Linked DNA regions of Homo sapiens. The protein of the gene in region 2 interacts with the protein of the main gene of each other region in a biochemical or structural test. Each region holds a gene or a part of one and is shown on either strand. Other genes may lie near its edges.

Region 1 (3,746 bases), on a different chromosome or scaffold from region 2:
ACACACACACACACACACACACACACACACACACACACGCCTGGAGTGGGATCTAGACTACAGATCCCAGCATGCCCTGTGACTGACACACACACACACACACACACACACACCTGGAGTGGGATCTAGACTACAGATCCCAGCATGCCCTGTGACTCTCTCACACACACACACACACACACACACACCTGGAGTGGGATCTAGACTACAGATCCCAGCATGCCCTGTGACTCACACACACACACACACACACACACACACACACACACACACGCCTGGAGTGGGATCTAGACTACAGATCCCAGCATGCCCTGTGACTCTCACACACACACACACACACACACACACACACACACACACGCCTGGAGTGGGATCTAGACTACAGATCCCAGCATGCCCTGTGACTCACACACACACACACACACACACACCAGGCGGGGGAAGAGCTGGGGAGTGGGGGCGGGGAAGTCTTGTGACTACAAATCCCAGAATGCTCTGGAGCTAGGAAGGAACAGGACGGCTTTGGGGAGGGGTCGTGGGACTCCAGATCCGGGCGTGCCTTGGGACAAGGCAGGGACAGACCGGCGGGGGGCGGCCTGGTACTTCAGGTCCTGGCACGCTGGGGACTGGCGCTCACCTTAAAGGAGTCCACAAACTCGTCACTCATCCTCCGGAGCTCGCGGCCATAGCGCTGTGCTGCCCAGAGGTTGGGGGGCGCCGAGCGCGAGCGGCCCCGAAAGGGGCTGGGCTCCTCCCCCATCCCTTCGTCGTCCTCCGTCCCCGCGGGGTAGGAGCTGTGGCGACTCCGGATCTCCACAGCCCCAGCGCCTGCAGAGGGTCAGTGGGTAGGGGGGCGACGTTAATCTCAGCTCCTCTAAGCCCCTGGCCCTGCCTGAACCCTCCCCATCAGCTCTGCAGGCCCACTCGTGGGTCTTCCAGGGGCGCATCACAGCCCACCTCTCAGAGCCCCAGTCCCTTGTATGTGAATCGAGGGGAAGCTCAGGGGCCTTTGGTGAAGATTTAGGTTAACTTCTCATTAATCCCACGAATCCTTACCGAGTGCCAATAATGGGTGAGGCCCTGTGCCTAGCACAAAATAAGGGCATAAGAAATACTAGTTACATCACAAGGTCAGGAGATCGAGACCATCCTGGCCAACATGGTGAAACCCTGTCTCTACTCAAAACACAAAAATTAGCTGGGCATAGTGGCACGTGCCTATAGTCCCAGTTACTCGGGAGGCTGAGGCAGAAGAATCGTTTGAACCCAGGAGGGAGAGGTCGCAGTGAGCCGAGATCACGCCACTGCACTCCAGCCTGGGCGACAGGCTTTTTTTCTCAAAAGAAAAAAAAAAAAAGCAAGAAGTATTATTAGTGCAAGACCTTCATGGGGCCTCCTGGCAACCCCTGGGTTGGTAGCTATTTCATAGTGTCTGTTCTACATCGGAGGAAGCCAATCCCTTGGATAGGAAAGTGTCCTGCCACAGCCGGCAGGATTGAATGCCTCCTCTGCAAGGGACCTGCAGAGCCCCTGGAGAACAAGAACTTGGCCGCTACATGTCCGCATCCCCCACAGAGCCTTCTCTGGAGACAGTGTCTGGAACTGTTGACGTTTTTAGGTACCATTGATGGTGCACTTACGTGTAGGCCGAGACATTCCCTTATTATCCTCCTAACCACCCTGGGAGGTGAGTACCAAACATGCTTAGGTGAGAAGACAGAAGCTTAGAGAGTTAAGACTTGCCCAGTTTCTGTGAAGCTGTGGAGGCCTGAGGCTGGAAGGTTCCAAAGGTTTGGTGGAATCCAGAGTCCAGTGATGATCAGCGGAGCTCTGTGTCTCTCCCCTTGTCTAGCCAGCCTTCGACTCTCTTAGCCTGTGTCCTCACCTTTATGAGGGGATAATCCTAGCCCTGACTCCCAGTGGCTGTGTGAACATCACATAAAATTAAAAAATGTGAAAGTGCTTTGTGGCTGGGCGTGATTCCTCACGCCTGTAATCCCAGCACTTTGGGAGGCTGAGGCAGGTGGATTGCTTGAGTTCAGGAGTTCGAGACCAGCCTAGGCAACATTGCAAAACCCCATCTCTATTAATTTAAAAAATTAATAAAAGAAGGCCAGACGTGGTGGCTCACGCCAGTAATCCCAGCACTTTGGGAGGCCAAGGCAGGTGGATCACCTGAGGTCAGAAGTTCGAGACCAGCCTGGCCTCAAACTCTGGTGAAACTCCGTCTCTACTAAAAATACAAAAATTAGTTAGGTGTGGTGGTTCACGCCTGTAGTCCCAGCCACTCAGGAGGCTGAAGCAGGAGAACTGCTTTAACCCAGTGGGTGGAGGTTGCAGTGAGCCGAGATTGTGCCACTGCACTCCAGCCTGGGTGGCAGAGCGAGACTCTGTCTCAAATAATAATAATAATAACAAAAGAAAAAAGAAAGTGCTTTGTAGGCTGCAAGTGCACTATGGGTTATTATTCAGAGGCCCGCCTACTATGGTCTATTTGAACTGTGCTCTGTGCCATCTCCCAACTCCTGCCAACTCCACTCCTCTACCCAGACCGATAAAGACTTAGAACCACTCCCCTGAGCAAACACTCAGAGTGCAATGACAGAGTGAGAAGCAGGTGGGGGGCTGGGCGCAGTGGCTCACGCCTGTAATCCCAGCACTTTGGGAGGCCGAGGTTGGGGAGATCACGAGGTCAGGAGTTTAAGACCAGACTGACCAAGATGGTAAAACCCCGTCTCTACTAAAAATACAAAAAAATTAGCCAGGCGCGGTGGCAGGCACCTGTAATCCCAGCTACTCGGGAGGCTGAAGCAGAAGAATCGCTTGAACCTGGGCAGCAGAGGTTACAGTGAGCCAAGATCACGCCACTGCACCCATCTCAAAAAAAAAAAAAAAAAAAAAAAAAGAGAGGCAGGTAGGGAAACATGCTGGGTGTTTATGGCAAGATATGTCTGTCAGGGAGGCTCTTTGGAGGAGGTAAATTACAGGCCAGGAACTGAAGGCGGGGGATAACCATTGGAATGTCTCTTCTCCCCTCAGAGGACCTGAGGACCTGGCCTGTGGGCCAGTGCAGGGCCTCCAGGGGTCCCAGCTAGGACACATAAATGAGACACATGACTAAGAAAGCAAGTAGGTGGCCGGGTGCGGTGGCTTACGCCTTTAATCCCAACACTTTGGGAGGCCGAGGCAGGCGCATCACGAGGTCAGGAGATCGAGACCATCCTAACACGGTGAAACCCCATCTGTACTAAAAGTACAAAAAATTAGCTGGGCATGGTGGCTGGCGCCTTAGTTCCAGCTACTCGGGAGGGTGAGGCAGGACAATGGCGTGAACCCGGGAGGCGGAGCTTGCAGTGAGCTGAGATCACGCCACTGCACTCCAGCCTGGGTGACAGAGTGAAACTCTACCTCGAGAAAAAAAAAAAAAGCAAGTAGGCGCAGTGGCTCACGCCAGTAATCCCAACACTTTGGGAGGCCAAGGCAGGTGGATCACTTGAGGCCAGGAGTTCGAGATCAGCCTGACCCAACATGGCAAAAACCCATCTCTACTAAAAATACAAAAAAAGGCCAGGTGTGGTGGCTCACGCCTGTAATCCCAGCACTTTGGGAGCCCAAGGCAGGTGGATCACGAGGTCAGGAGTTCGAGACCAGCCTGACCCACATGGTGAAACCCTGTCTCTACTAAAAACACAAAAATTAGCCAGGTGTGGTGGCGCGAGCCTGTAATCCCAGCTACTCAGGAGGCT
Region 2 (3,746 bases):
AGTTCGAGTCCAGCCTGGGCAACATAGCAAAAGCCATCTCTTAAAAAAAAAAAAAAAAGGCCAACTAAGTAAAAATTAAAAAAATCATAATTTGGTGTGCTTTTCTGGCTTTTTAAAGAATGTTTTGATTTTAGAGTAGGAATGAGACAAAATAAAGATGTCAGGCAGGGCACAGTGGCTCATGTCTGTAATCCCAGCACTTTGGGAGGCTGAGGCAGGCGGATAACGAGGTCAGGAGTTCGAGACCAGCCTGGCCAGTATGGCGAAACCCCGTCTCTACTAAAAATACAAAAATTAGCAGAGCGTAGTGGCGTGCACGTGTAATCCCAGCTACTCAGGAGGCTGAGGCAGAATTGCTTGAGCCTGGGAGGCAGAGGTTGCAGTGAGCTGAGATCGCACCACTGCACACCAGCCTCCAAGATACAACAGAGCAAGACTCTGTCTCAAAAAAAAAAAAAAAGTCATAGCATATTTGTACACATTGTAGTACTCATTTGTCATCTTTCTTGACCCCAATAATCCAGTGTCCCTATATATTTGCACTCGAGCCCTATTAAGTAAGCCGCTGTGCTTCTAGAAGACCTTTTTCTTTTCTTGGTGCTTTGTCAAAGACTCTTGGAGATAAAAATACACACGTGCAACTTGTTTGTCCTCTTGTCCTTTTTTGCTAGGGGCTATTCATGCTGATTAATTTAAAACTGTCTGCTTGCGCGTACACACGTCTGCGAGTGTGAATGTGTATGTGTGTATCTATGTACCTCATTTGAGAAAGTGCGGCCAACTAGGATTGGCTACGAGGCAAAGGTGGAGACCTTTAGGAGCCCACCCACCCCAGCGTTAGGACGGTGGGCCTGAAAGTTACTATATGGAAGTCCTCATCGTGTAGCACTAAACCAGTGTAAAAGGTGTTAGGGACAGAGGGAAAACATTGACTTAAACTGTCGTAAAGCCCTTGATAAACCCCTTCCCTGGAGCGCTGAGTTCTGCATGGCCTGGGCCACGGACTAGGTGTTCAGGTGGACACGGGCGGGGATGCGCGTGCGTGTGTAGTGCGCGGACACCTAGGAAGCTACTTGAAAGTAAACACCACGCTCGGGGCGTCCCTAGACATTGCTTAAAACGTGCAGAGTCACCTGTCTTCACAGCAGGGCAGCGCTGAGGTCCCACTGCTGGGGGCGGTGGGGGGCGGCATTGGCCTGGGTCTTCCCCCGGCGGCCGAGCGCCGGTAACACAACGTGTGTGTGTGTAGGCGCGTGTACACACTCTCATACACGGCTAGAAAGGGTCCAGGCGACACACACACTCCCACATACACGGCTAGAAAAGGTCCAGGCGAGACACACACACACACACACACACACACACACACTCCACACACACTCACACGGCCAGAAAGGGTCCAGGCGGTTCCCGGCGCTTTTCCAGCCCTTGTTTTCATGGCGCACCCTCCCGCCAGCCGCCCCCCTCCGCACTCCGTCGTCCGCCCGGCCCGGCCGCGTGCGGTTCCCCGGGAGCCCCCACCCCGTCGCGGACCCCAGCGACCACCAAGTCCGCACGCGGCCTGCCGCAGGCCTGAGCAGAAGGCCCCGCGCACACCCACCGCGCCGCGGCCGCGCGGGAGGCCTGTGCCGCCCGCGCCACCCACTGGCCGGGCCCCGCGGGCGCAGCGGAGCGGGCGGGTGGCCGGCCCGGACGCGCCCTCCCCGGCCGCGGCCCCGCGCGCCATGTGCCCCCGGCGGGACGCGCCACTCCCGGGCCTGCCGCGGCGCCTTTAACCCGGGCCAGGGAGCGGGGCGGAGGGGGCGGTCGGGTGGCTCAGAGGAGGGCTCTTTCTTTCTTCTTTTTTTGAATGAACCGTGTGACGTTACGCACAGGAAACCGGTCGGGCTGTGCAGAGAATGAAGTAAGAGGACAGGCACCACAGCCCCGCTCCCGCCCCCTTCCTCCCGCGCCCGCCCCTCCGCGCCGCCTGCCCGCCCGCCCGCCGCGCTCCCGCCCGCCGCTCTCCGTGGCCCCGCCGCGCTGCCGCCGCCGCCGCTGCCAGCGAAGGTGCCGGGGCTCCGGGCCCTCCCTGCCGGCGGCCGTCAGCGCTCGGAGCGGGCTGCGCGGCGGGAGCTCCGGGAGGCGGCCGTAGCCAGCGCCGCCGCGCAGGACCAGGAGGAGGAGAAAGGGTGCGCAGCCCGGAGGCGGGGTGCGCCGGTGGGGTGCAGCGGAAGAGGGGGTCCAGGGGGGAGAACTTCGTAGCAGTCATCCTTTTTAGGAAAAGAGGGAAAAAATAAAACCCTCCCCCACCACCTCCTTCTCCCCACCCCTCGCCGCACCACACACAGCGCGGGCTTCTAGCGCTCGGCACCGGCGGGCCAGGCGCGTCCTGCCTTCATTTATCCAGCAGCTTTTCGGAAAATGCATTTGCTGTTCGGAGTTTAATCAGAAGAGGATTCCTGCCTCCGTCCCCGGCTCCTTCATCGTCCCCTCTCCCCTGTCTCTCTCCTGGGGAGGCGTGAAGCGGTCCCGTGGATAGAGATTCATGCCTGTGCCCGCGCGTGTGTGCGCGCGTGTAAATTGCCGAGAAGGGGAAAACATCACAGGACTTCTGCGAATACCGGACTGAAAATTGTAATTCATCTGCCGCCGCCGCTGCCTTTTTTTTTTCTCGAGCTCTTGAGATCTCCGGTTGGGATTCCTGCGGATTGACATTTCTGTGAAGCAGAAGTCTGGGAATCGATCTGGAAATCCTCCTAATTTTTACTCCCTCTCCCCGCGACTCCTGATTCATTGGGAAGTTTCAAATCAGCTATAACTGGAGAGTGCTGAAGATTGATGGGATCGTTGCCTTATGCATTTGTTTTGGTTTTACAAAAAGGAAACTTGACAGAGGATCATGCTGTACTTAAAAAATACAAGTAAGTTCTCTGCACAGGAAATTGGTTTAATGTAACTTTCAATGGAAACCTTTGAGATTTTTTACTTAAAGTGCATTCGAGTAAATTTAATTTCCAGGCAGCTTAATACATTCTTTTTAGCCGTGTTACTTGTAGTGTGTATGCCCTGCTTTCACTCAGTGTGTACAGGGAAACGCACCTGATTTTTTACTTATTAGTTTGTTTTTTCTTTAACCTTTCAGCATCACAGAGGAAGTAGACTGATATTAACAATACTTACTAATAATAACGTGCCTCATGAAATAAAGATCCGAAAGGAATTGGAATAAAAATTTCCTGCATCTCATGCCAAGGGGGAAACACCAGAATCAAGTGTTCCGCGTGATTGAAGACACCCCCTCGTCCAAGAATGCAAAGCACATCCAATAAAATAGCTGGATTATAACTCCTCTTCTTTCTCTGGGGGCCGTGGGGTGGGAGCTGGGGCGAGAGGTGCCGTTGGCCCCCGTTGCTTTTCCTCTGGGAAGGATGGCGCACGCTGGGAGAACAGGGTACGATAACCGGGAGATAGTGATGAAGTACATCCATTATAAGCTGTCGCAGAGGGGCTACGAGTGGGATGCGGGAGATGTGGGCGCCGCGCCCCCGGGGGCCGCCCCCGCACCGGGCATCTTCTCCTCCCAGCCCGGGCACACGCCCCATCCAGCCGCATCCCGGGACCCGGTCGCCAGGACCTCGCCGCTGCAGACCCCGGCTGCCCCCGGCGCCGCCGCGGGGCCTGCGCTCAGCCCGGTGCCACCTGTGGTCCACCTGACCCTCCGCCAGGCCGGCGACGACTTCTCCCGCCGCTACCGCCGCGACTTC

The links. The genes of interacting proteins can lie anywhere in the genome.
Region 1: the proteins of BCL2 (region 2) and BAD form a complex in vitro, tested with the Homo sapiens proteins (5 studies listed by BioGRID and IntAct, with this or other methods).

The regions. Positions count from the first base shown.
Region 1 is NC_000011.10:64,270,976-64,274,721, forward strand, and holds part of BAD (bcl2-associated agonist of cell death), read right to left. Parts: intron 829-3,746; coding exon 638-828; intron 1-637. UniProt on the Homo sapiens protein: Promotes cell death. Successfully competes for the binding to Bcl-X(L), Bcl-2 and Bcl-W, thereby affecting the level of heterodimerization of these proteins with BAX. Can reverse the death repressor activity of Bcl-X(L), but not that of Bcl-2.
Region 2 is NC_000018.10:63,318,331-63,322,076, reverse strand, and holds the start of BCL2 (apoptosis regulator Bcl-2), read left to right. Parts: upstream 1-2,307; 5' UTR 2,308-2,903; exon of another isoform or gene 2,904-3,124; 5' UTR 3,125-3,410; coding exon 3,411-3,746. UniProt on the Homo sapiens protein: Suppresses apoptosis in a variety of cell systems including factor-dependent lymphohematopoietic and neural cells. Regulates cell death by controlling the mitochondrial membrane permeability. Appears to function in a feedback loop system with caspases.